Homo sapiens: one gene and its partners. The protein of the gene in region 2 interacts with the protein of the main gene of each other region in a pairwise test. Each region holds a gene or a part of one and is shown on either strand. Other genes may lie near its edges. The genes, in order: CTBP2, NEK6, NIF3L1 and GRIP1.

Region 1 (7,026 bases), on a different chromosome or scaffold from region 2:
GGGTAGGGGACCCCAGTTACATCCCTGTGGAAAGCAGTTATTAGAGGGAATTAAAAGATCTTGGGTTTGGAGCTTGTTTTGAACCTGACTAGGTGGTTTGGGTTTAATTCTTTTTCCTGTTCAGAAAGATAAGGTAAAGAATACCGACTCCCCCCCGCTCTTTTTTTTTTTTTAACCCCCACCTGACAACCCCCTCTCTAATTGTACCTTAATAAGAGTCTGCAGGTTGAATGCAGAACCCTGTGAGTTATTTACGGTTTCGCCTGGGAGCTTTGAAACTGACCCTTGAATGGGTGTTCTCCTGCGGGGAGGGGCAGGGTGAATTACCTTTTCTTAACTGATTTTAAAAAGCCTCATTGTCCCTAAAAATCATTTCCTTGCACGAGTTGCAATTTATGTGTGGAACTGAATCATCAATTCCGTGAAGAGAAAGATATTCGTAAAGTACATCTCTCTAAAGTTAAGAAAGTAAGAACGTTTGGCTAGTTAAAAACAAACACTACTGCCATTGTAAAAAACACGCCAGTGACATACTTGGTGAGATATTTTGGCCTTTTGAGAGTCGGGGCACACCTGTTCCTGTCCCTGCCAAGTTGTGTGTGCTTTCCCTGCCATTGTTAATCTGGTCGTGTACACAAGATGAAACGGTAAAACTTGCTATCTGTATAATTATTAACTAGTTTGTCAGTTACCCTTTCAGAGAATAATCAATAACTTCAGTCTTAACTTTTAAAACTCCAGAAATTTTACTTTTTAAGTCTGGAAAATGTTTCAAAGAGAGATTAAATGAAACAAACAAACAGCAACAACAAACAACAAAACCAGAAAATCAACCTACAACTTTTTAGTTTCTGAGTAGCCAGCTACAAGGCAAAGAAATGATGAATATATATAGTATGTACTGAACAAGCAGTGCACTGGATTTTAAAATGATATTTTTATTGTTACCATTGCTGTTAAAATACAAACAGCTCACACTATTTGAAATCCTTGAGATTCACGGATTGAAAAAAAACCGAAAAGGACACCTCTGAGTGAGGGAGTAGCCCTGCTGAGATCTAGCACCAGAATGCCATTTGCCAACAGTTCACTAACATCATGAATCATTTTTGAAAGCAAAGTTATACCCTTTGCACTTAACGCTTTCCCTAAATGGAAAAAATTTAAAGAGTTTACAGCAATGGTAGAATGGCAGCCCCAGTTGTCATTTTTTTACCACTGTCATTTCCATAGAGAGGGGCTGTCATCATAATGTATGTGCATGCAGCCTGGGTCCCTCTGTTAATCTATCAGGGAAAAGCAGCAGCCCTAGTGTCCTGTGGCCCTGAATCAGGCCACAAATATATATTCATACAGCACATGGTTGGGAAGGGAAATTTATCAGTTGGGCAGGGCACAGCTCAGGTAATATTTCCACTTTGGGATGGTAGGTCTGTTACACAGGGTGGAACATATTTTTGTAGTAACTAAAAAATGGGAGGGCAGTGTGTCTGTCCCTGGAAAAAGAAGTATTTGTACTTAATGGAAGTGACCCATGTGGTGAAATCTCGGGGTGTCTTTTCCCCAGCAATCTTTCTATGAATTGCTAGGGGAGGAATGCTTGTGTGAACTTACCCTGCTGAAAACTTTTAGTGGGCACATGAAATGCTGGAATGGATACACTTTTAGAGACTGTGCGGCCTGGCAGATATCAGTTTTCTCCCTTACAGCTGGTAAGCATGTCTTAATTTACGCTGCTGCAAGTTAAAGTTACAGCACTCCTGGAAAGAAGGGAAAATGCAAGGCTTCTCCTCCCCACCTCATCTTTTGAAGTTAATTTTCATTCAAGTCTGTGTTTGATGGAATATGTATCAAAGACTTATGAAAGAGTTTTTTTTTTTTTAATCCTATCTTGGGGTTTGGAAAATTATATTTAATAATTGCTAAAAACTTAAGAACCATTTTAAAGGTGTTCAGTGGCCCTTTTGATCATGATTTAATGGAGAGTATCCAAAAGCCATCAGTGTGACTCTAATGATATTCACAAATTAATGTTTGGGCATAATCTGGAGTTTGCTTTTAGCTATCATTATTAATGTTTAAAGCCTAAATTATGGCTGCACTTGGGCATTCAGAACTTCGCCTGTGAAAAGAAGGGCTTTGCACATTGTGTAAAAAAAAAAAGGGGGGATTCACAAATGAATACAGAATGTACAATAGGGAGAGAGCCAGGCCATTGTTTGTGTGGAATGTTGACCATGGGAGCCAAGGGCTAGTTTCGCCTTCATTCTTCTGACTGCTGGAGAACACAGAAACTTCAGGAGCTGTGGACGGGATGGGAACCAGGGGCACATTCATCCGTCTTTGCCGGGCATGGAGATTTGGCCTGCCCCCTTTCCAGAGTTTTTCTTAGAAGGTGGTCTTTTCTGGACTGCTAAGGAACGTCGTGTGCTTTCTCTTCTCAGTAATCTGCTTTTTTGAGGAACGATTTTAACGGCAGATAGTAAGAGTTCCTCAAGGAAAGTAAACAGACCTTTTCTACCCCCTCGAAATGTGATTTTAGGAAATGATATTCAACTTCAGAAAGGAGGCATCTTAAGTCACAGGAGGAAGTTGTGTTTATTTTTACTCCTCTCCTGACTTTAAAGTAGTTTTTAATCTGTTGGTAGCATTAGGGAGAATGCAGCTAAAATAAGTTTTTGCTGGATGTTCATGTTTTGCGTAGCTGCTGCCATTTCGGAAAAAGCTCCTCCCCCATTCACAAAGCCCTTCTCCTTCCACGTGGGAGCCGAGGTCCCAAAGTGGAACCAACTCTGTAGCTTAAGGGAGGTGCATTCCTGGCCCCTCACTTTCTAACCCTCACCTTAAGTGGAATATGTAGATAATATGTAGATCATTAACCATTGTTGGTGTCTGAAGCCTGTTCAGTTTTTTTAGCAACGACACTCGGTGAGAACCAGTTGTAGTTTGCATGTGTATATGCCTAGTCCCTCCCTCAGTGAATGTTTTAGAAAGTGATCTGCTTTAGCTGTTTACCTAACTAAATTTAACAGATGGTTGCCTAGAGTTGGCTTAATATTCACAAAAATTGTGATGAAATGGTTGGGATCTTATGAATGGGACAAGTGATGATTTTGTTTCTATAGAGAATTGTGACTTTTGTCCTAGGTAATAATAGAGACTTCGTTTTTCCCAAAGATCGGTTGGTGTTTAAAGGATGGGAACCCTGAATAGCTGCTGTTGTCTGCCCCTGATCCTGGTGGTGGCCAGCCTTGCCTTTGGTTTTGTTGCCTTCTGTGAGTCCAGAAAAGCCCTGGAGGCAGGGGTGAGGGGGGAGAGGGAGGGCTGGGCTTTTCATCCGTGGGGTTCTAAAAATCCTTCTCATTTATAAAATACAAAAATACTTACCTTCCATTGTATTGCTGATTTGTGCTTCCTCCAAAGCTCTCCTCTGATCAGCAGAAATGTGCTTCTTGCATTAAAACAAATCCTTAATTATGACTAAAAGAAACTGTCAGCTGCCTTAAAGATTGTCTGGAAATAGTGGCAATATTTCTGTGTCTCATTCCAGCCCACGTTGTGGCAGAAGCCTGGAAGGGCCACGTTAAAGGATGTGTCACAGAGACAGTGTGTGTAGGTCTTCCTGCAGCACAAGCAAGCTCAGGGCTTGTAAAGTCCAGCTTATCGTGGCTGTGCTCCAGCCATGCCTGAAATCTGGCCTCCAGCAATCTGTCCCGTCCCAGGACAAACAAAAACTTTATTATGGAGTCATGGAACCTGAGGAAGTTTCTCTGGAAGGAACCGAAGACCTAGACCGTGGAGGGAGATCAACTCCTCTGGCCTAATGGGGCTTTTCTTTTTCCAAGATGGAATTTAAAAATCTCATCTATAAAATGAGGCTAGCAAAGAATCATTTTATGGTGTAAGTGGCCAGAATCTAACCTGGAAGTGATAGTATTGTACCTGCCGCAGGTGTGTGTGTGGCAGCGGGAGGGTGGAGAGGGGAAATGAGAGGAGAAGAGTTTGGAGGGGAAAACAGAGCATTCGAGGTTTCTCTGCTGGAGGGGGTGAAAGGCCAGGAGTTTGTGCACCTTTCCTTTTAAATGAGCTCTAGCTGTGAGTTTATTATTTTGCTGATGGATGGTCTTTCGTGCAGTCTAGAAGTGCAAACACAGTCGGCTTATCCGCTGCTTGTTCAGGTCCAGGGAGACCAAGGGAACGGGTGGGGGCAGTGCTTGCAAATCCATCTGGATCCTGGACACCCCACTTGGTGTTGCTGCAGCCAGCTCCCAGGCCTGCCCACCTGGAGTACAGCCAGCGCCAGCAGCGGGCAGGGCCCGAGAGAGCTCTTAAAGCCATGTCCCAGGAACGGTTGAGGGAACTGAGAATGTTCAGCCTGGAGTGGAGACACCCCTGGGAAGCCCAACATTGTCCTCTGTGCGGTCATGTGGCCTTACTCTGCTCGGAACAGGGAGGCCTTGCTGTTGGAGCTGCCGGGCCAGATGGGCTGCGTGGGCTCCTGGCACAGGCAGAACTTGGCTGACCATTGGCTCCCAGTGCCAGCCAAGGCTCTGCAAACACCCGAGACCCTGATGGAGACTCAGGCTTTGGGAGCACCTCCTAATGAGCTGGGGAGGATACTGTGTTTTCTTCCCAGTGGGGGGTGACCAATAATCTTAAAGTTTTTTCCCTTTCTCCAGACGTTCAGCTGTGGTCCGCACTCTGGATTGCTCTATCTGCCCTGCGGACTGGATAGAGGCTCAGCGTAGATGCCCAGCTGACCTGACATTTCCTACCCATATTTCCTAGTGTTTCAGGAGCAGGCAGAGACAGACCTGATTCCTTTATCTCGGGGCTTTCAGATTACGGAATAGAAGTCACACTAGGAGGGCAATCAATAAAGAGTATATTTTGCTGTACAGATACCAATATGCACATATAAGTGCCTACAAGTAAAATCTGGGAATGTTTTTGATCTTAAAAACATTTCACAGTCATTAATCTTCACGACGCTCCTGCGGGCTGGGTAAATAGAGCAATTCCTATTTTATGCCAGGAAGAAATATTGAATTGCCTCCCCCAAGTCATAAAGAGGCTGTTTTTCCTCCTTGTTCCTGTGACTCGCGGTGTGGGGGGCCTGGGGCGCCTGGAACCCCTGCGATCCGCTCAGACTGACTCCAGGACGACTTCCGGTGTCCTGCGCGACCTTCTGTTGCGGGGAGCGCCAGTCCGCCACACCTGGCCGCGCTCTACCTGGAGGGGGCGGGGTCTCCTGCATTTCCCGGACCGCGGGGGTGCCCCACCCTGCTGCAAGGACGGGCCTCCTGGCGTCCGGGCTTCTGGGGTCCCGGGGTCCCGGGGTTCCTGGCTCCCGAGCCCCAGGTGAAGCCCCCTCCATCCCTGGGGTTCGCCCCTCTCCTCCCGGCGGGTGGACCTGGAGGCCCCGCCCCCGCGGGCCAGAACACCTGGCGGCGCGGCCCCGCCCCAGCTGTGCCCTCTTCCCCCCGCAGGGCACTTGGCGGCCCCACCCTGGCCCCTCCGCGGGCCGCGGTATCTGACACCCCCGGGCCCCCCCACCTCGCGCCTCGCCTTTACACTTGTAAATGGAGCCGCTTCCCGCCGCGGGGAAGTCGTTGAGAGGTGTGAGAATGGGCCCTGCCCCCTCCCCCCGCTCCGTGCCCACTTCCTCCTTCCTCCCGCTGGCCTTTGTGCTGGGCGGGGCCGCTCGGACCCGGGGCGGCGGGGGTCCAGCTAGACGCCGCCTCAAGCCAGCAGGGTCGCCGGCCCCTCTCCGGTCCGCGAGGCCCCGGCAAGGTAGGAGCCTCGAGACCACGCGGGACACCAGGTTGGCCCCCAGCCCGCACTCGAGGCTCAGAGCAGGGGCGGGGACCTGGTTGCACCAGGCCAGAGCCGCCTCCACCCCGCAGCGGTCGCGGACTCCGGGCACTCATGGGGACTCCTGGGGTCGTGGTGAGTGGTGAGGTTCGTTGATTGACTGCGCGATGGTGGCTGAGTTGCAAGCAAACGGTAAACAGCGGCATCATTTCCACTTGACCGGCTTGGGATCTCGTCTCCTGGGCAGTGTTTGGGGGTGACCACGGTTCTTGGATAACCTTCGAATCTGGGTGTTTTCCTTGTAGTACAAATAGCGCAGTGGCAGTTGCTGTGGGAAACAGCGAGGGCCACTGAGACCTTCAGCAGAACTCCACGTCGAGGACGAGTGACATTTGCGCGCCTCTGCTGCGTTCTCTGCTGTTCACCCCGGCGGCTCCCAACACCTGAAGCCTGGCGAGGCATGTGACTAGAGGTTGTCCGAGCGCAGAGTGGTAGGACGGTGCGATCTGGCCCGTTTCGTCTTGCCCTCGTCTTCTCCATGGAGGAATTTCTGTGTTCGCCTCTATGTTTTGCAGACTTAATTTGGTGCTCCAGAAACTTATGCAGCCATTCAAGTGCGCTCTACCTGTTATTCAAGTAACTAGAGAGCAACCATTTCTTGAGCACTTACTTAGTGTCTGGCACTAGCTCGCTGGGCCATTGTGTGTTGTTGCGTTGCCCTGACTCTTCATTGGTAAAACAGTGACTAACTATCACCTGTGCCTCTGCGAGGACAGCGCTGTGCTTGGCCAGGGCTGGAGAGCCGATCTCAAGGCAGGTGTCTGGCCTTTTCCTGGACATAGTGAGTCTGTGATCCAGAGTCTGACCCACGTATTCAACGGGGCCTGCCTCAGGCTTCCAAACAGGAGCCAGGCTGTTGTGAATATTCACTCCAAAAGTGCAGTGAATGTAAAACATCCTAGAGCAGGAAGTGAGGCAGGCCCCGTTGAATACGTGGGTCAGACTCTGGATCACAGACTCACTATGTCCGGGAAAAGGCCAGACACCTGCCTTGAGATCGGCTCTCCAGCCCTGGCCAAGCACAGCGCTGTCCTCGCAGAGGCACAGGTGATAGTTAGTCACTGTTTTACCAATGAAGAGTCAGGGCCAGGGAGCTTAGGTAATTAAGTCTGGCTAGTTACTACCAACTTCGCCTGGCTCTGGCTTCTCTGT
Region 2 (7,026 bases):
CTTCTACAGATCACAGCCCGTTTGGGAGTTTGGAAAGTGGGGCCATGATGTGTCTCACCTACAGGTGATCAATGTCTGAAGACACAGAACACCATAAAGGTCTGTGCGAGTGAAAGGTGTTAGCTCAGAGTACAAGTATTTTCTCTGCATGTTTCCCCAGGAAGACGGGGCAGGGACCTCATCTGATTCCTGTGTGTTTCCCCAGGGGCCAAGAAGGCATGTGGTGCTCAGCCGTCCCTTGCTGAATGGCATCATGAAACCTGGTCACAGGGCTTCCTCATTTCAGGGTCCCAGTGGCCAGCTCAGGGGCGGCCCAGCACCTGGTGTGCCCATCACCCCTTGGAGAAAACCACAGAATGTTTTCCAAATGCCACGCTGTCACCACTAGGCTGGCTCCAAGAGCAGGCGGCTCCCACACTTGTCCCAGCGTCTGCACAGACAAAAACCCAGTCCTCATTTCCTCTTGGGTTAGGTAAGGAGGCTGGCATTTAAAACACACACAAAAGGCCACTACATTCCCGGAGGAGACGAACAAAGGAAATGTACACACACTGACTCAGTCCGGCACGCCGTGCCCACTCGAGGTCCTGTTGTAACTGAATCCAGGCGGACTCGACCGGACCTGCCAAGCCCAGGGGCGGACTCCCTCTCCTTTGCTCTCTTCTGTGTGCCATGTGGTGCCCAGTGATCCTGCCATCTGGGCACCCACGCTGGTGGCCCGCCAAGGCCACATCAGCTGCAGAATCTTTCCTCTTTCAATGCTGGGTTTCCTACTTTCTAAGATGGGGTGTAATCTGGGGTCCTGCTCATTTGCCAAAAAGTCATGTCTGTGCTCAGAGGTGGCTTGGTTAGCCTTTCCTCAAAGCAACCCCAAAAGATATGCCCTCTAAACAAAGTGTGTGCTTGGTAGAAAATGCAGCTTTAAGACACAGCACTGACCCATTCCAACCCAAAGCCCTCCTATGCAGACATGTGGGAGCTGCCTCGGCAGGGAAGGGGCATAGGAAGGAGAGCCTGTAACTCTGGGAGGTAGAGCCCTTCTGGGCTTAGGTTCCTCCTCATTGGAATAATTCGAGGATGAGCATTTCTCTAAGAAACCTCTTCTCCCAGGGAAGGGCCAGCTCAGCTCAATACAGCCCTGCACAGCCCACTGAGGGGAGTGAGGAACGTTTGCTAACAGATTCGTTCACTCCATATAAACATTCTCCAAGGATCCGGCCGCGTGCCTACTTAAAACTTCCCATTCACTCAACAAATATTAATTGAGCTCCTCCTATGTGTCAGGCACAATGCTGGCCATGGAGAACACTGTTGTGGTCCACAGACCAAGTCCCATCCCCTTCTAGAGTGCATGTTCAGTCTGTGAGGCAGGTTACAACTATGCGATGACAAGACGGATGCTCAGGGGCCCTGGCATGGTACCTGGGTGCACACTGTTCCTTCCAGCTGCCTGGGGGCCCTCACACAGGTCCTGAGCTGGGCAGCTGGTCACTTCCTGAGGGCACATCCTGGTCACTTCCGGAGGGCAGCCTCTGTCCTCCAATTTTCAGCTCAGACCCCCATGCTGTGGGTGTCCTCACAGCACTCAGGCTGATGCTCGTCAAGCACCACAGATCCTGGACTCTCTGGGTCTCTGTTTCCTCATCTATAAAATGGGCAGAACGATACCCACATCACGGCATCACTGGGAGGATGAAGTGAGTTCCCTCAGGTTAAGGGTTAGATTAGAACATGGCCCACAGTAAGTGCCTGGTAAGGCCATCTACCGACAGGAGCAAAGGCCAAAGAAGCAGGAGGAAGTTCCACAGCCCCACCTCTCACCCACCGGCCCCACCTGCCTCTCCACCTTGGGGTCTACCTGCCCTTCACCCCAGCCCTCTCAGCCCTCTGGCAAACCCCACGTCTCCCTCCAGGTGGGTTCAAACACCCCTCACTGCCGGAAGCTCTCCTACTTCCCCAGAGACTACATCCCAAAAAATGCCACCTGCAAATTGATCAAGAGCACCTAAGAAGGGGTTGTGACAGCCTCTGTCCCCACCAGGTGGTGAGAGGCCAATGGGTGGGGCCATTAGAGGGTCTTCGTGTGGGCTCCCAGCACAATGCCTGACCCAGGACTTCCATCCGGACATACGTCATGAAAGAATGAGATAACGTGCCACACACCAGCCAGCACAAGCATCTCTGGTTAGCAGAAGGGAGTCCACTTAGCCCATAGGACAATGGACGGTCTGTGTTTTTGCATCAAAACTTTTCACCCGCAGTCCAGGCCCAGGTGTCACAACCAGAGCCTTGACCTGAAAGCTGGGACAGTGATCTGATTTAGGCTACAGAGCAGCAGGCTGCATGTGGGACCTGAGGCTGGTCATGATGTCTCTCTGGGCCTCAGTGTCGCCATCTGTAAAAGGAGAGGTATTTTTTTTTTTAAAGCAAGACAAACTTGTCTTTTTTTTTTTGAGACGGAGTCTCACTCTATTGCCCAAGCTGGAGTGCAGTGGCGCCATCTCGGCTCACTGCAACCTCCGCCTCCTGGGTTCAAGTGATTCTCCTGCCTCAGCCTCCTGAGTAGCTGGGATTACAGGCACACGCCACCACGCCCAGCTAATTTTTGTATTTTTAGTAGAGATGGGGTTTCACCATATTGGTCAGGCTGGTCTCAAACTCCTGAGCTCGTGATCCGCCTGCCTCGGCCTCCCAAAGTGCTGGGATTACAGGCGTGAGCCACCGTGCCTGGCCAAAACTTTTATGTTTAACATTTTTCTCAGATATATTTAACCACTTTAAAGCAAACCGCTGGATGGGATGTATTACAATCACAATGTTGTGCAACCACCACCTTCATCCGGTTCCAAAACGTCTGCGTCACCCCAATAAAAACCCATGTCCCTTAATCAGTCGCTCCCCAGTCTCCCCTCCCCAAAGGCCCTGGAAACCACCAATCTGCTTTAGGTCTATGTGGATTTATCTATTCTGGCTACTTCATGTATCTTAAAATGACTCCTATGCAAAACCTCCTTATGTAAAACAGGCAACAGGCAGGTGGCTTTGCCCCCTTCGCCTCCCCGGAGCTCACGTTCCTCATCCTTAGTGGCCTTTCAGGGAAAGCTCTGATGCCAGGTGCCATTCTTTGCAGAACTCTTTTTTTTTTTTTTTTTTTTTTTTTGATACAGAGTCTCGCTCTGTTGCCTAGGCTGGAGTGCAGTGGCACAATCTCAGCTCACTGCAGCCTCTGTCTCCCAGGTTCAAGTGATTCTCACGCCTCAGGCTCCTCAGGCTCCCGAGTAGCTGGGATTAAAGGTGTCCACCACCACGCCCAGCTAATTTTTCGTATTTTTAGTAGCGATGGGGTTTTGCCATGTTGGCTGGGCTGGTCTCAAACTCCTGACCTCAAGTGATCTGCCCGCCTCGGCCTCTCAAAGTGCTGGGATTATAGGCATGAGCCTGTCCTGGTCTTTGTGATTTTTACACTACCTTTTTTGTCACATGGTACCTCTTAGCAGAATTCTAATCCTAAAGTTGAATTTCTAAGGCAGATCACCCCCAAGGGTGCCTGAGGATCACGGGGCTGGTGCCTGGTGTTACTGGCCCGTTTTCCGGATGAGGGAGTAGAGGCTGGGCCCCTGTGAAGCCCTCCTTGCATGAGGTGACTACAGAGGAGTGGACCTCCAGAGCCTGGTGACACCCTCTCCCACCACACAGACTACAGCTGGGTCTAGGGTGTGACGAGCTGGCAGAGAAGCCGCCCCAGAGCGATAGCCACTTCCGGAGGACAAGGATCTCTCCACCGGCTCAGGAAAACAAGCCAGTTTAAGGGAAACCCAAATGGCTTTGGGGGGCGGGGGCATAAAATGTGCAGGACTCCCTCAGGCCTTGCCATGCAGACCTTTTCAGGAGGACTGCCAGGGGAAGACGGCTGCTCACTTCTGCCCCACGGCCAGGCCTGTGACAGCCGCTCCTGTCAGCGCAGTCCTCTGCGGGGCCGACGCTGTGTAAATAATTAACAAAACATCTGCCTTGCTTCATAACACACCGTGGCTGACACAGCTCTCAGGGCCTTCAGAGACCCTCCAATGCCACGCCGAGGACTTATGGCCTCGCTTTGTGGGGACAGGTGGGAACGAGAGCAGATACTGACAGGCAAACATTTTCCTGAGGCGCCACAGGGCCACCCTGGTGCTTAAATCCTGCCTCTTTGCAAACTGCGCTGTCTCCTTCCCTTCCGTTTTGGGAGCCATGATCCTAGGAAGGTGCTCTGGTGGAATCCAGAGGGGTCCCCGGCACCTGCTTCTGGCCTTGTTTAGGGCCTCAATGCAGGGGCACTGGAGACACTCTGGGCCACGGACCAAGGGTCCCGGCTGAGTGACCCTGGGTGGGTCCTTGGTCATTAAAGATTTTCCATGTCTCTCATGTAATCTTGGGGAATGAGCATCAAGCACTTAAAAGGCGCTGAGCATCTGAAATGCATTATTTCACTTACTTCCTCCCCCGAAGCTTCTGAGGTCATAATATTATCCCTGTTTTCCAGATGATGACGCTGAGGCTCAGTGGGCGACGTGCTCATGAGAGGCAGGTCTGGGACTCCAGCCTCATTCACTCCATCGGGTGCCCAGGCTCAGGCTCTCAATGCGGCTGTGGGGGAGCGCCTTGCTCCCTCTGAGCCTCAGGTTCTGTTCCGTGAAACAGATGGGTGGCAAGAGTCCTTCAGACTCCAAAAGTCCACAATAAATAAACCCAGTGCTCGTCTCAACCCCAGTGGGTGTGTGCGAAGCTCTCTGGATTGGGAGCCCAGTGAATTCCTCATCAGCAGCTTGATTCATTAGAGCTGAAGGTCATGTGCATCCATCCTTTTGCAGGTGTCTTCCCAACAAGCCCAAGTTTCAAAGACGTTGAGGACAAGGAACAAGAGAGGGCAGGCATTCGAGAAGGGGCCTGTGGACTAATTCCCATACTGCCACTCACCTGCAGTAAGAACGCGCCTCTGGAACATGGAGAAGTTCTTCTTAAAGGGATCTCTGTTCACCCAGGTCAACATGACCCACCCCGCAAGCCTCAGCCTAATTCTGAAGCATGAGGGTTAAACAATTCGGGGAAAATGCAGGCACTGCAGGCTCTGAATGGCAACTTCCCTCCCCCTTCCCCTGTCCAAATTCCTTCACACTCTATGGAATTCCTACATAAAGCCCCTTTTTTCTTAGAATTCTATGAGGTCACCACCATGCAGATGTCTAAGAGAAAGAAAGAACGGCTCCGTGCAGATCCAGGCCACTGCAACTGAATGCATTTCAGATCTCGGCCACCCCATCTTTCAATTCCCATGGCCCCCCCACTCGCCCAGCCACAGCTACAGCGGTGGTGGCCAGTCAGGTCTGGTGGGGTGCTGTGATCCTGCCCTTGCTGGAGGCCAAGAAGGCCTGGCTAGAAGACCTGTGCCTTTACCACCAGATCACCCGAGAAGTCATCTGTGGAAAAATCCAGAATTGGAGACAATGGCGCAGCCATGTATGTGGGGGTCTGTTTCCACACAAGCAAGTCCTGTTAGAGGGACACATGTCAAAATGCTAGCTCCCACTCCAAGTTCAAGTTCCCAAAGTTAACATCACAGGAAATTACACCACCAACTGATTTGCCCCAATGTCGGCTCCTCTGTCTGGAAGTCGAGTCTGAGAAGGCCATTGGTTTAGTTCAGCTTTGGCCAAAGGAAGGGACCAGCTCAGACAGGAATGAGTGAAAGTGCTGGCCTGATTTTTTTTCTTTTTAAACTAACATTTTCCCCAAAAGTTATCTTGCCATTACCCAAGAGTCATAAGTGAAAAGACAGCCAAATACCAAAAAGCCACTGAGGCCCTCAACAGTGCCTGCTCATTTCAAAGCCATTTCACGGACAGCCAGGGGGTGCCTGGGCCACCGCAGACCACCCCTCACTCCAAGAGCACTCCTGCTCCCCAGAGCTCCATGTTCCATGTAAAGTTCCACGGCATGTGCACACCACTTCCTAAGAATGATGTCAGCAAAAAAAAAAAAAGATAAAAATGTGGAAAAAAGGACTATTTTTACCTCCCCAAATCACAGGCCAGACGGGAGAAAAATCCATCAATGCCAGAAATGTGGCTGAGCCTTCGCACAAGATCTATTATTTCACACCTTAAATTAACGCATCTCAAAGCAATTTGCAAATGTTCGTCAATTTGCAGAACATACATGGAAGGGAGAGAAATACCTTTTCCTTTCAACACCGAAGGACACTGGCAGGGGGGCACAACATGGCCCAAACCACACAGGTCCTCACACACAACATTCATTTCAAGCACATGTAGTAGAAGCCGTGATCGAAATGGAAATGAGCAGGGAAAAAAGGCAGGCAGGGGACTTAAATGACAAGTGACAAGAAGCCTACCTACAAGCGATCTCGCTGTCAGATATTTAGGACTGTGAGTCAGGCCCGTGAAGGTGACATCAGGGGGCCAGAACACCGGACTCTTCCTGCGAACAGTGTCCCAGCCTCATCTCCACACAAGCCTGGCAGTGCCTGCCCGTATTTAATCTTGGATGATTCACCAGGTCCCTCCACTCTCCACCCTCCAACTCCCTTGCTTGGTCTAGCCTGAGAAGAGGAAGGAAATATTCTTCTCCTTTTGACAATTGTTTTGACACTTCCCTTATGAAAAGTATCTGGGGCACTTAAAGAAAAGAAAAAATGTGAACAGCAGCCCTTTCTCTCCAGTAGCTCTGGCCCTGGGCGAGGAAGGCCAGCAGTGCCTTCTGGAAGACCTCTCCCAGGTCTCGGGCAACCCAGCCCTGCAGGAACCTAGCCTGTCTTAACCTACTTGGCTTTGCAGCATGCAACAGGAGCAAAGCACGACAAAGGCAGCCAGATGTGGTTTAAGGTGAGGAACTCTGGAATCAGAGACATGGGTTCGAATCCCGACTCTGCCATTTGTGGGTTTATGACCCTGCCCAAGTTACTTAACCTCCCTCTCTGTAAGATCAGGAAAACGACACTGAACCTCAGCACAGGCCAGGCATCCAGCC
Region 3 (7,026 bases), on a different chromosome or scaffold from region 2:
TGACTTGAGACTCTTCAAAACAGAGGAAACAAGAGACCAATACTTTACAATTCCCTTTCATTTTACTATTATAATTTGTACCAAGAATCCTAAACATAATACAGATTTCACTCCTGGTCTCATCACCAGTATATGAATTGTTCTTACTGCATTTTAAAAAAAACATGTTTTAATATAAGCAAACAGGTCATTCTTTGATATTGCATAGCTAACCCAAGGCATGGTTATTATTCCTTTGTTGTGTTTTTTTTTTTCAACAACCTTTGTAAATTGCGCAAAATACGGAACAATGCACAAATTTGCGTGTAATCTTTGCATAGGGGCCATGCTAATCTATATCATCCAATTTTTAGTATATGTGCTGCTGAAGGGGGCACCGTTATTCCTTTGGACATGGCTGCACAAACTCACAAACCACTGAATAGTACTAATGGTGCAGCTCTAGGCTGTATTGCAACAGTGCTAGGTAAAATAATCTCACCTGGGTCTTCAGACAACAGTGAGAGGTAAGCAAGTACTATCTCTATTCTCAGGTGAGGAAGCTAAGGAACTAAAAGGACTATAAAAAGAGGAATGCTACAAATGGATTTGGCACTATTTTTAAATATACTATTTATTCTCAAAAAGCATCCTCTGGAAAGTGAAATAACAGCAACTTTCGAGCCAAAATCCAAGTATTTAGCACTTGGGTTTCTAAAATGAACACTTTAGTGGACACTCCAGTTCAGCAGCAGGGTATCTCAAAGAGGGGGCTTTGGAGTTATTTTGGAAGTCAAATCCCACCTCTGCTATCCATTTTCTTTGGACACTAACTCCCTTGGGTTGTTTGATCTAACTGGACTTTTAGATAAGTTACTGATATGGTTTGGCTCTGTGTCCCCATCCAAATCTCACCTTGAATATAATCCCCATAATTCCCACGGGTCAAGGGCGGGACCAGGTGGAGGTAATTGGATCATGGGGGCAGTTCCCCCATGCTGTTCTTGTGATAATGCGTGAGTCTCACGAGATCTGATGGTTTCATAAGCATCTGGCATTTCTCTTGCTTGCACTCATTCTCTCTCCTGCCACCCTGAGAAGAGGTGCCTTCCAACATGATTGTAAGTTTCCTGTGGCCTCCCCAGCCATGCAGAACTGTGAGTCAATTAAACCTCTTTTCTTTATAAATTACCTAGTCTCAGGTATTTCTTCATAGCAGCGTGAGAACGAACTAATAAAGTTACTTATCTCTCTGAACCACAATTGTTCACCTATAAAATGGGAGAAATAGTACCAACCACAAAACTAACAACAGCTAGCACTTTATACTTAATGTGAGCCAATCACTGTGCCATGTCACATGGATTATACTACCACCTTCTGAGTTAGGTTTTATTAATGCAGTTTTTACAGATGAGGCTACTGTGACACAGAGGGCATAAACTTGTCAAAGACATGCAGCAAACAGGACAGACAAATCTGAAGCCAGGTTGTCTAAGCTCAGAATCCACACCTATAACCGCTGTACCCCACTGCTTTTGCCAGCAGGAGCTCACGTACTTAGGACAGACAATCAGTACAGTGCTAGGCTCACTGAAGGTGTTGAACAAATGTCTGTTCACTCTTTTTGTTCTCAAAAGTACCAGGAAAGGCCAGAAGAAAAAACTACAAGACTTAGAAACTACAATGGATCAGATCACTCAGTAGCACCTCACTAGAAAATATTACCAGTCTTATAAGTGCAAAGTTTATGTTGTAATTGTAGCAATCATGATTCCAGCTCTCTTCCTGACACATGGTAAGACTGCACTTTATGCCTCCCTTGCTTGTATTGGGCAACATGACTAATTCTGGAAAATGAGTTGAGCAGAAATTAACATGTTTCCTGGAATTTTAAACTGATGGTTTAAGACCCTGCAAAACTCCCTCCCTCTGCAACAGCAACCAGTCTACAATGGTCAGACTTCCTACAATGACCAACTTGAAATGAACACATAGCATGACAGAGAAATAAATCTCATTGATTAAGTCAATGAGATGTATTCCACATCAGAACCTGGCCCACCCTAATCAATAACGTAAACCAATTATCTCCTATGAGCTGCTAACACATTCTCTATCACATATTAATACAACCAAGAGTTTCGATCTTTGTCCAATGTTAACAGTAGGCATACTGGATAGATGAAGGAGCTATATTTACCTAAGGTTCTCCCCACCCCAAGGGCTAAGCGAATATGAGATAGTTTTAGGTGTCTTTTTATTCGATCAATCATGGTTGCCAGGGAGACAGATTCATCCAGTGTGCATAACCGTCCCATTCCAGTATGTAGAAGCAAAGGCTGAGGAGAAACAGAAGTTAGAAACGGTGTGCATTGTTAGTCCTAAAACAACAAATGCTAAAATCATCAACATGCACACTGTGAGATTACTATAGCAAGCTCCAGGCTAAATGTGGGGATACAAACCTGACAAAATCATTCTTCTAGGAGTTCACAGTTTTCTAGGAAGGCAGATGTTTAAATCAATAATCAGGCCAGGCGCGATGGCTCATGCCTATAATCCTAGCACTTTGGGAGGCTGTGGTGGGTGGATTGTTTGAGCTCGGGAGTTTGAGACCAGCCTGGGCAACATAGTGAGACCTCATCTCCACAAAAAAATCCAAAAATTAGCCAGGCAGTGGCGTGCGCCTGCAGTCCCAGCTACTTGGGAGGCTGAATGGGAGGTGGGCTTGAGCTACCCAGGAGACAGAGGTTGTGGTGAGCTGAGATTGTACCACTGCACTCTAGCCTGGGGACAGAGCCAGACCCTGTCTCAAATAAACAAAATAATAAAACTGTTTAAATACAAGGTAGGTGCTACAGTTGCAGCAGCACAAAGAATGACAAACTAAATGAGCTGTGACTTAGGAGGCTTGGGGAGTACTTGGAGGAAGGACTTAGGTCTTAGAGAAAACCCTAAAAGAGTTAAAAAGGGGGAAATAAAGAGTTTAAAAAGGGGTGATGTCAAGTGCAGTGTGGCAGGACAGAGGTACGATGAGATGGAGAAAGGCATTCTAAACACAGAGGACATGGACAAAGGTGCCAAAAACTTGAGAGAACACACTATGGGGGCAGATCCAAAAGAAGACAGTATGGCTACTGTGCAGAGTACATGCTGTGGAAGGAGAGGAGGCTGGAGGCCCAGGCTGTAGCAGATCATTAAGGGCTTCCAACACCATGCTAAAGAGCCTGGACTGCCTCCTAGGTGCTCGGTGAGACTACTCTCATCGCAGAAAATGAGAGTTTCAACTACTGTGGTGGCAGAGCCAATACAGAGGAGAAACACTGTATAGATATGAGGCCAGACTCAGCAGGGCCTGGAGTCAAGGAGGAATGTGAAAACTTGGAAACTAAAGTAGATAATGATACTGAAATATGAAATATGGAAAAAAAAAAAAGCGGGGGTGGCAAACGGATAAAGTATTTGGATATACTGAATTTGAAATACTTGTGGGCTCTGTAAGTGCAAAACATCCAGAAAGTAGATGAAAATATGGGTTCTTGTCATTTTTTCCCTTAAGAAAGCATTCTAAGCCAAAAAGTAAAGATAGAAATCATCATACAAATGGCTATCAAGTTAAAGAAGTGAATGACATGGTCCAGGCAGAGCGTGTAAAATAAGGAGACAGCAAACCTGTAACCAAATCTGTAACCCTGAAGACGTACCAATATTTTCCTGTTCCTGGAATGTCTCCCTTTCTCAATTACTTCCTAGAGAATATTATGCTCTCATTGCCATTTTGTACTTTAGATAACAGTGAATGGCCTGTTGATCTAATAATTTACAAATGAATTTGCTGAAGAAAAATGCAAAGTAATGATATTCATCAAATTGTACACATCAAATATGTACAATTCTTAGTATATCAATTATACCTCAATAAGGTATACCTCAATATACCTAAGTATATCAATTATACCTCAATTATACTGTTAGAAAATGTGTGCACAGTATTTTAAGATCAAATACAAAATATTCTTATTACCTTCTCCAGTGACAGAATTTCCGTCTTCTGATAAAGTTGTTTGTTCCGGGAAAGAAAATCTACCACCTGCATCAAAGCCTTCTGAGTACAATTCAGATTAATCCGTGTTTGTTCCTCATTACCAGTCCTAGGGGGGAAAAATCACTCCATTTAGGACAAATATAGCCAAAATGTATTTTAGATAATCCACAGTTTACAAACCTACTATAATAGATTAGATTTATGTGGAACCAAGGATTTAACCAACAGAACCCATTTAATCTGAAACTAATCCATTTTCTAGAATAGCATTTCTCTAACTCTACTGGGCATCAGAATCACCTGGAGGATTATTAAAACACAGAGTGCTGGGCCCCACCCCTGGAGTTTCTGATTCATTATATCTAGGTGGGGGTCTGAGAGGTTACCTTTCTAACAAGTTCCAGGTGATGCTGATGTTGCTGGTCCAAGGACCTCACTTTGAAACCACTGTTCAAGAACTGTTCTCAATCCCGATTGTGCATCAGAAATTTCTTGGCCAGGTGCAGTGGCTCACATCTGTAATCTCAGCATTCTGGGAGGCCAAGGTGGGCGGGTCACTTGAGCCCAGGAGTTCAACACCAGCCTGGGCAACATAGCAGGACCCTATCTTATTATTTTTTTAATTATTAAAAAATTAAAGTTAAAAAAAAAAAAAAAAAGAAGGCCAGGCACAGTGGCTCACACCTGTAATCCCAGCATTTTGGGAGGCCAAGGTAGGTGGATTACCTGAGATCAGGAGTTCAAGACCAGCCTGTCCAACATGATGAAACCCCATCTCCACCAAAAATACAAAAAAAATTAGCCGGGCGTGGTGGGGGGCGGGTGCCTGTAGTCCCAGCTACTGGGGAGGCTGAGGCAGGAGAATCACTTGGACCTGGGAGGCGGAGGTTACAGTGAGCCAAGATCACACCACTGCACTCCAACCTGGGCAACAGAGTGAGACTCTGTCTCAAAAAAATAAAAAAAATTCCTTCTAGCTTCTTAAAATAACAGCTGCTGGATCCTTCCACAGAACCAGTGAACAGAACATCTACAAATGGGGCTGGGGCAAAATGAATTTTTTTAAAGCCTTAGAGATGATAATTTTAAAACATCATTGAATTTGAGAATGTCCTGGACAGATTCTCAGGCAAACTCCATTCTAATTATAAGGTCTGAGGTGAATACAAAAATCTGCATTTTTTTTTTTTTTTTTTGAGACAGAGTCTCTCTCTGTCTCCCAGGCTGGAGTGCAGTGGCGCGATCTCGGCTCACTGCAACCTCCGCCTCTCGGGTTCAAGTGATTCTCCTGCCTCAGCCTCCTGAGTAGCTGGGATTACAGGCATGCGCCACTACGCCCAGCTAATTTTGTATTTTTAGTAGAGACGAGGTTTCTCCATGTTAGTCAGGCTGGTCTCAAACTCCTGACCTCAGGTGATCCACCAGCCTTGGCCTCCCAAAGTGCTGGGATTACAGGTGTGAGCCACCGTGCCCAGCCTGGGAGTCTCTTAAAACAAACAAAAAAAGACTATTCAGAAAAATATTTCCCATGATGTTAAATAAAAAGACTGATTTATGAAAATATATATTTAAAATGTAAAGATAAATATAAAAAAGCACTTGGGAATCACTGATTTGCTGGGAACCAATAAAAGCCTTATCACCACATCACTAGGATCTATCTGTATTCTCTAAAGTAAAAACAACTATCTTTGAACATTACCAGGATTAGAAATACTGTAGGTAAAATGCATAGTATAGTCCCCTGACATAGAAAATACTTAGTGTTACTTACCGTTTTTATTGTTTTGAAAAAATTCCATAGTTCTCCAGGACCCACAAACAAATGAGGAGTATGCTACTTTGTAAATCAACTCCAGAGAAAACTATTTGTTTCAAGCCTAAATACCAGGGTTATAGACTTTGTAAGGAAGATGCTTACCAATAAATACACACAAAAAAAAGAGAAAAATAAATTGTACCTAGCAGAAAAAGAAGTGACAGAAACACCGTCAATTCCTTTCACTGCAGACATGACTTTGTCCAGGTCTTGGGTGTAGTTAACGTTGAATTCTACTCGGTGGTTTCCCTCTGTAGGGTAGTTGGGAGCTTTGGAAGGATGTATGGGCCTGGAGGTACAAGCTCCTAGAGAAAATATTGTGGGAAAATGGGAGTTTTGGGGGGTGAGAGATTAAGATTTAAAAGTAAACTATTATAGGCAAAATTTCTAAGAAATGACTTTTTAAAAAGATTCATTCTCATGCTTACATAACATACACACATCCCTTAGATATACATCACCAGTCCCCATAATCTAGGGCTTTGGCATGGACATACAAAATCAAATTATTTTCAGAATTATTTTCCAAAAGATTCTTAAATCTCTGAAAAACTTGGACAAGAAAGACTGATTCATACATTTTCAGATAATACACAGAATGGTCTACTGCTTGGTAAATCTAGCCATGTAAACCATCATTCAGGTTGCAAATGCTCATACTTTATTTGACCACATTAATCCAGATATCATCATAAAAGCTTTAGCCCAAAATGAGTAAACTAAAGACTTACTAAAATAAAGCTAAAATCCATCCATCATTCCCTCATTGTGCTAGGCATAAGTAAACATTCACTAAAAACATTCATTAAAACCCTGATGTCTATTTACTTGACTTATCAATCAAGTGTATTCTGGAGAGGCCTGAGCTTTCAATTCAACAAGCATTTTCCAAGTGCCTGGGTGACAGGCATTGTGCCACAAAAGTGAGGAATCATGAAGCTCAGTCCAGTAAGGAAGACTTCTGCTCTCCTTACTCCATAAGAATAAAAAATGTTTCCTTTTTCAAATGCAATTTAACTGCCAAATTTCAGCAACATTATTTTAAAATTATTATATAAAAATGGAATCATGCCCTCCCCAACCCTAAAGCAGTTAAAACTTTACTGGAAAGACATCCTAAAGTTTCAAAGTATTTGCAGGGAAAATATCAAATATGAAAGAGGCTTCTCACCAAGCCCTT
Region 4 (6,903 bases), on a different chromosome or scaffold from region 2:
CATTTTTAAGCAACAGCATGCAAAGGAAAAGAAATGTAATAGTTAAATGAATAAGCAAATAAATGGGATCTATCAGGTATATTTTGTAACAGAAAGATTTATGAAGTTGAAGAAAGTGCAAATTATTTTAGCACTTTAATCAAATTGATTCTAATGATATAAAATAGTTGAGTATTTGTGGGATTAACCTCATTGTTTTGGTTTTTTGCAAAATGAATTTCCAGGTTTAGGCATATGGCAGAACATTTTTGGTTTATGATGATTCTTTCTTGTTAAGAATCAGAAGAACCTCCAAACAGCGCTATTTATTTTTGGGATGGAGATGTTATATAAAAGAATGAATACAATGGCGGAGAATCAAGGAAATGAGAAAATTAGAATAAGATTATGGGGCTATGTGTGCCACCTGCTGATGAAGCTGTGGAATGCTTTGGTTTTGAGACTATATTGGAATCTTTGAGCCAATCTTAAGGTTTTGTTTGTCCATACACCACAACCCACCCCCTTCTTATGATAAAATTAGTACCATATTGTCAATGGAGGTGATATTCCAAATATTTCAAAACCAGCATGACACAGGCCAGTCAGGATGGGCTAACCATGCAGTGAGAAGGGATTCCTGTAAACACTTGATACGTAATGGTCTTTCACCAGACGGTACTTGCCTTAACTGTCACCTGTTTCTGGTTCCTTCTGGTCAGGGTGGTCCTAGAACCATGAGCTGTGCTTCAGAGGGGAGAAGGTGATAGGCACTAGTTTTTCCCTCTGTCAAAAGATAACTGCACTTAAAGGTACTTTGTTAATTGAATTTGTCCCCCTGTAAACTAGATCACATTTTGTATTGGTGGCAAGGAAGCAGTGAAAAACAAGAGGAGAAAGAATGATTAGCCAGGGGTGAGAAGCTATGGTTCTTTCCTGTTCTTTACCACTTACTAGCTGAATGACTTTGATGAAAAACACCTTCTCTGAAACCAGTTTTCCTTTTCTGCATCAAAAACCTATAACAGAGTCGCTCCATGATACATTATGTGTGAAAGTGCCTTCTAATTCATTAAATTCTATGTAAACGTGGTACACTTGTATTACACCTTAGCAAAACTAATGTTTTAAAGAAACCCTGAAATAAGAATTATCATCTTAAGGGACTAGTCTGCCCTGAATCCAGCAAACCCATGTTTTCATGTATTGAGGTGTTTGTGTTTTTAAGAGGGGTAAACCTCTTGAACTAGCTCACTCACTCTTCTTCAGATCACATTGGGGCTTAATCAAATCTGTATTTTGTACAATTTTACCTGCCTTCTTTTTCCATAACCCCTACTTGGTGACCCTCACAGAGCATGTTGTAAAGTTTGAACTGTCTAGACAGCTGAGCCACCATAATTAACATGTTCATGACAGGTCCCAAAGACACATGCTTACATTGATCTGGTAGCCAAGAAATGTAGGTCACTCTGCCTTGTAGTAGCTCATGTTAGGAGCCTGTGGTCCACATTCCACCGGTTGCCTTGGCCATTTGAGACCTTCATCCTACAGATCGATACATTTTGAGATAGAAGGCTTGCATTGTTGGAAGGCATTTTACCAGTGCTAGAGTTCAGGATGGGAGGCTAAGCTTGCATTAGGCAAAGGGAGGACAAAGGGTTTAGGGCAAGAAGGTTGACCTGGGAGTGGCTCCCCAGGAAATCTCCAAGCATTAGCGAGGCCAGAAATGGAAGAAGATGGGAATACCTGGTGAATTCGTTCATTTTCTGGAAAAGAATTACTCCAGGAGGCTCCATTTCTGTAAGATTCCTGGGGCTGCACCTGGGCAGACTAATAGGATAGATATGGATTGGCAGCCACAGTATTCAAAGAGAGAAAAAACAATCCCCTAGTTTGGGCTCTCAGAAACCTTTCAAAGAGCTCCATGATGGGTTATTTCCCCTGCCAAAGAAATAGGACATTTTAGTAGTTCTGAAGACCTTTCTTGGGACCAGAGGATAGAGCTTTTAAAACAAAACAAAAAAAATAAGCATATTAGGAAAAGGGGAAAATATTTGATCATTTTAGTCATAAGGAAAAAGCAAATTGGATTTGAGTCTGCAAAATAGCAGAAGGCAAGAGATTCCTGTATGGTTTTGAGTTGTATTTGAATAGACTGGGCTGGGGTGGTGGTGTTCCACAGGCAAGATTCTACTAATAGTAATTGACAGCTGCGTATTCTGAGTGCCTGGATTTTAGGAAATATGTTAGATTTGGAGAAGAATCTTGGAAAGAGCTAACTGTAAGTATTTATCTCACTTTAGCTAGTAACTCAGTTCTCTAGTACTAAGGTATATTTCTATTTAAAGCAAAAAAATATCAAGGAGGCTAAACTATTTCTAGGGATAACCTAATAGAGATGAACATAATATGGGTTGAAATTCAAAGAAAGATTTATGCTAATCAGAACAATTATAAAAATTTGATTTTGCACTGCAGTCCATTTAATATAGTATTTTCTATTGATTAGTGGTTGCTTTAGCTAGACCATCCTTGGTAAAAGAATTCTGTTCTTTTCAAAAACCTTTAAAGTAGATGCTTATGATATTCAGATGTTTTTCACACACAAATTATTTTTCTATTGGACTCAAAATACAAAGCATATGCATTTCAATAGCAGTGGATTGAAATTGTTTGAGTTCATATTGAATTTATGAATGAAGAAAAGAAAGTTTTACCACTAAATTTGGAATGTTGGAAGTTATTTTAAAAACCAGCTTGAAAGTTTTTTCACAGCCTGAAGAGTAGAGAATAAAACTGTATGAATAATTCATAAAGTCCTAGAAATATTAATCAAGTAGTTTAGACAGTGATATATCTTTTCATTTTGACTAATTGATTTTTTTTTTCTTAAACTTCCTGGCCAACTGTCTAATTTTTTGTCCTGAATGTTTATGTTAACTCCTGTGGGAGAATTCTGGATTTTGATTAAAATTCCCTACCAAATGTTAGTTCGTATTGACTATATGGCGAGCAGGCTGCTGCTGGCAGATGAGGAGGTGTGCTCCGCCTTCTTATCACTTTGTGAATGGATTGTGAAGGGTTTGTTAATTTGCTCTTCACTCCATTGGAGCAGATACTCACAAATATCTGCTATGTCGCAAGACCGTTTTATTTGCATAATGAGAAGAATGGTTTGGGGGATGGTTGTTTGGGAAATAGTATAATAAAGTATATTAAAAATAGAAATACTTGGCCTTGTTTGCCTTTATTTCTGGTATCTTTAGAAACAGTCTTGACTGTGTTGCTTTCCAGCCAAGTCCTTTTTTGGAAGGGTGATTAAAGGGGCTGGGACTCCATCTGCCTGATTGTCTGCCTAGCCCTAACCCTTTCTTGTATTCCCTCTATAAACAGACACTGCCTTAACTCTCATAGGTTCAGGAAGTACCAAAGAGGTCTCTGTCCTAGAGCTGCTTCCCCGCTATAGGCAGAACTGTGATTCTTTCCTCAATCCCAAATATAAACGGCCCTCCCTCTTTTTCTTTCCTTTTTTTTTTTTTTTTTTTTGGTTGTTGTTTAAAGAACATAGTACATGACCCATGCATTTCTTCCTAAAGTAAGAGTGTAAGCATTTCACTTGCATTTCCCATTAAATGAGACATATAAAGGACACTGACTTGATGCTGAGAAGGAAAGGGGCTGATGGTGGCTGAACTGACTGGATACATCGCCTTTTGCCTTAAACAGAATGCACTGTTCAGTGCTTAGCGTTAGATTTATGGAATGGCTCCTCACACAGTGTCGTCCCTGCTTTGTACAATTTGGTGCTTTGTTGCTATCGAAACGGCATTACTTTCTAAGCCATTGTGATTGTGAAGGGGGAGGAGGCTGTGGCAGGCAGGGGTGGTAGTAGTAGTGAATGACACAGATTTGCCAGATGACATGTAGCGGACCTCTGCATCAGCCAAGAGGAATTAAGCTTTGTCACTCCCCACTGGGACTACCTTTCTCCTGGTATGTGCGCAAGGAATTCATATGCTGCTGCTGCTGCAGCCACCAGAGCAGAGAGCCTTGAGTACACTTTGCCACAGAAAGCAGTGAGCAAGAATGATAGCTGTCTCTTTTAAATGCCGTTGTCAAATTCTGAGGCGACTTACTAAAGGTATCGTGCTTTCCTTGTTATTCCCTCAGCGAGTCTGTTGCAGTATCCTATAAACACAGTTTAATGGTTTTTACTTTCAAATATGACTGCCTTTGCAATTTATTGTCAGGCAACAAAGAACTCAGTGAAATATGTATAGATACATATGTACAGGTAGACTCGGCTTTGCTTTCTGTCCTTACATCTCGGTTGTGTTCGTGCTGAAATTATGAAAGCAGCTTGTGTGATTTTTTTTTTAATGACTTCATTCTTTGCTGAAAAGAGAATGTGTTTGGGTCCGGTGCTGAAGTTATTGTGGGAAACCGTCATTTTGCATGCTGATTAACTGGCCAAAAGGAGTCAAGTGTGTGTTACTGTCCTTTCTATGATACATATACTAAATGCAGCTGGCAGATTCAGGACTCGCACAGCTGGTGGATCCACAGAATAATTGTTTGTTCTATGACTTTCCAACATCTTAAGAGCTTTTTCCCTGGACAGCTTTAATTTCTTTATGTGTTAGAATTGCATGTTCAGAAAAGTATGTAATTCCAAATGCTTTGGTCCTATGTAATACTAGAAGTTTATTTGAAAGTAAAAATCATTGCTCGGAATCTTATCATCAAGAATTACCAGCTTCAGATTGTCACTCTTAGAACTCTAAAATAGTAATTAAATTTCTCTGTAATATTTAAGGTATTATTTTATTTGAAACCATTCTGGATGTGCCATCTCGTTTACTTTGTGAGCATTCTATTGCAAAGTTAGTAAATGGATGCCTTAAAAATCCTGCCTTGTGTCCATATAGATATGTGAGCTCTCTTGCCTTATTTCCTTTAGATAGAACCTTCCTTAGAGAAAATTTATTATTTAAAAAAAAACTTCATTCTGAGTAAAAGTATTTAGTTGCAAATGCCTTTCTTTTTCAGCCTGTAATATAGAGTACTGTTGAGTAATTAATGGATATAATTATGTTCTAGAAGCTCTGAACCTATAAATATGTTAATGGATGCTATTTCTGTCAGTTTAGCTTGACATATCAGAATTCTTTGATCACCAGCAGTGCAGCTAAAAATGCAATTAATATTTTATCTGGCAGAAGAATGAGCACAAAGCAAATCATGAGAAATAGATCTTGAGTCAATAACAGGAAAGAGAATAAATACTGTAGACCAACTTACCGAATGCATTTGCAAGTTGTTTGGATAGCAGAGTGAGTCCTTTAAAAGGTACTTTGGGGGAAATGTAGGGAAGATTATACATTTTAAATTAGGCTATTAGCAGGAGGCTGTAAATTCTGTTTTGACTTTATCCTCTACAATTGGTACAGACGTACAATTTCTGTTTATAAATCATGACTAAGAGACTATCCTTTCTGTTACGGTTTTGGCTGAGACTTTTAAAGGCAGGCCCTTATTCTGAAAAGTTCTTTTCTGACCTGATTTTGGCATTTACTTATCTTGATGTTGAGAAGTTGATGGTCTTCTTACATCATAAACATGAAACAATCAGTATTTTCTATTCATCTGTATCAGTTCTTTTATAAGTACTACATACAAGGAAGAGAGTGAACCCAAGCAATTTATAGTTCTTACAAATATTTTTAACTTTCTCAGTTTTCTGAATTTTATGGAAGCATTGATCTCCTGCATTGAAAGGAGATTTAAGTGTTTACTAAGATAGTCGCTAAAAATCTAGATAATTGAGGAAAGTATTGATAACTGCTTTGGAGTTGCTACCTCACACTTTTTTCCAAAATCTTTATGTCTGCTCTATTTGGTATTTAACTTAAGACTGTCAGTTGATGATTAAAATAAAATCTCTTTGCAGAATCAATTTGCCATAATTGGGTTCTTCTTTGTGTTTAACTGGCTGTCCAAATACTTACAAGAATGCACCTGAGTAACACGGTACCTTGCCTTGCCATCTGCTTCAGTCTTGTCCAACAACGTTCAAGTTCCACCCATGCTTCTTGTTCCAAAGTGGATTCATTGAGTTCTAGCACCCCACCCATACTTGTGGTGCTGTTTTCTTAAGCTGTAATGATAAAACCAGGAAACATATGTAATTACAATATTAAAATGACCTTTCTTTTAGGGTCAGGAGTGTATTTGGGGACAGGGGTGGATATACACTTGAAGTTTCTTTCTTGTCCCATTCTCCCTACTCACACAACTCCCACACCCTCACCCTCAACTCCCAAACATACATATTTCTTTATACCCATTGAGGGCTCCACCTAACACTCACTCTTCCAGACATTTAGCACAAGGCATTACACTTAGTAGGCACTTCAAAACTGTTTGTTAAAATGAATTGGATTTGTCTAGTTGAAAGTAGTAGGGCATTTAAATCTTCTGTGAGCTCTTAGGAAATGCTTCAAGAGCTTTATTAGGCCTCTTGTGGCTAAAACCTTACCCAGATCTTAGCAGGGGGAAGTTTGCTTCATGACTCCAAAACTACCTTGCTATTTGTGGTTGATATCACCCACAAGAAAAAGCAATATGGCAATTGCAATTTCTTCTTAATTTTCTTAAGGAGAAAATGATGGAATAAAAGGGAAACAATTTTCTACAAACACCCACATTCTTGATATTTTTACTTGATTCTTACATTCTTCATATATCTAATACATACTTAACAAATATCGATTAAGTACCTACTATGTGCCAGACACTGACATTTTTGCACTTAGAATTCTGGGCTGGGACAATTTATAGGTGTAAAAAGCATTTTTAAAATGAATATATTATTGAACAATAAATATTTTTTCTTTAGGTCAGATGTAATTTTAAAAGATG

The links.
Region 1: the proteins of NEK6 (region 2) and CTBP2 interact in binary tests that used the Homo sapiens proteins (3 or more experiments, as listed by UniProt).
Region 3: the proteins of NEK6 (region 2) and NIF3L1 interact in binary tests that used the Homo sapiens proteins (3 or more experiments, as listed by UniProt).
Region 4: the proteins of NEK6 (region 2) and GRIP1 interact in binary tests that used the Homo sapiens proteins (3 or more experiments, as listed by UniProt).

Annotation. Positions count from the first base shown.
Region 1 is NC_000010.11:125,150,541-125,157,566, reverse strand, and holds part of CTBP2 (C-terminal-binding protein 2), read left to right. Parts: intron 1-5,285; exon of another isoform or gene 5,286-5,361; intron 5,362-5,732; exon of another isoform or gene 5,733-5,793; intron 5,794-7,026. UniProt on the Homo sapiens protein: Corepressor targeting diverse transcription regulators. Functions in brown adipose tissue (BAT) differentiation. Isoform 2 probably acts as a scaffold for specialized synapses.
Region 2 is NC_000009.12:124,260,949-124,267,974, reverse strand, and holds part of NEK6 (serine/threonine-protein kinase Nek6), read right to left. Parts: intron 6,882-7,026; exon of another isoform or gene 6,807-6,881; intron 6,508-6,806; exon of another isoform or gene 6,392-6,507; intron 5,060-6,391; exon of another isoform or gene 5,030-5,059; coding exon of another isoform or gene 4,957-5,029; intron 4,951-4,956; exon of another isoform or gene 4,475-4,950; intron 1-4,474. UniProt on the Homo sapiens protein: Protein kinase which plays an important role in mitotic cell cycle progression. Required for chromosome segregation at metaphase-anaphase transition, robust mitotic spindle formation and cytokinesis.
Region 3 is NC_000002.12:200,892,371-200,899,396, reverse strand, and holds part of NIF3L1 (NIF3-like protein 1), read right to left. Parts: coding exon 7,018-7,026; intron 6,152-7,017; coding exon 5,989-6,151; intron 4,134-5,988; coding exon 4,007-4,133; intron 2,322-4,006; coding exon 2,183-2,321; intron 13-2,182; coding exon 1-12. UniProt on the Homo sapiens protein: May function as a transcriptional corepressor through its interaction with COPS2, negatively regulating the expression of genes involved in neuronal differentiation.
Region 4 is NC_000012.12:66,676,070-66,682,972, reverse strand, and holds the start of GRIP1 (glutamate receptor-interacting protein 1), read left to right. Parts: upstream 1-3,896; 5' UTR 3,897-4,068; coding exon 4,069-4,123; intron 4,124-6,903. UniProt on the Homo sapiens protein: May play a role as a localized scaffold for the assembly of a multiprotein signaling complex and as mediator of the trafficking of its binding partners at specific subcellular location in neurons.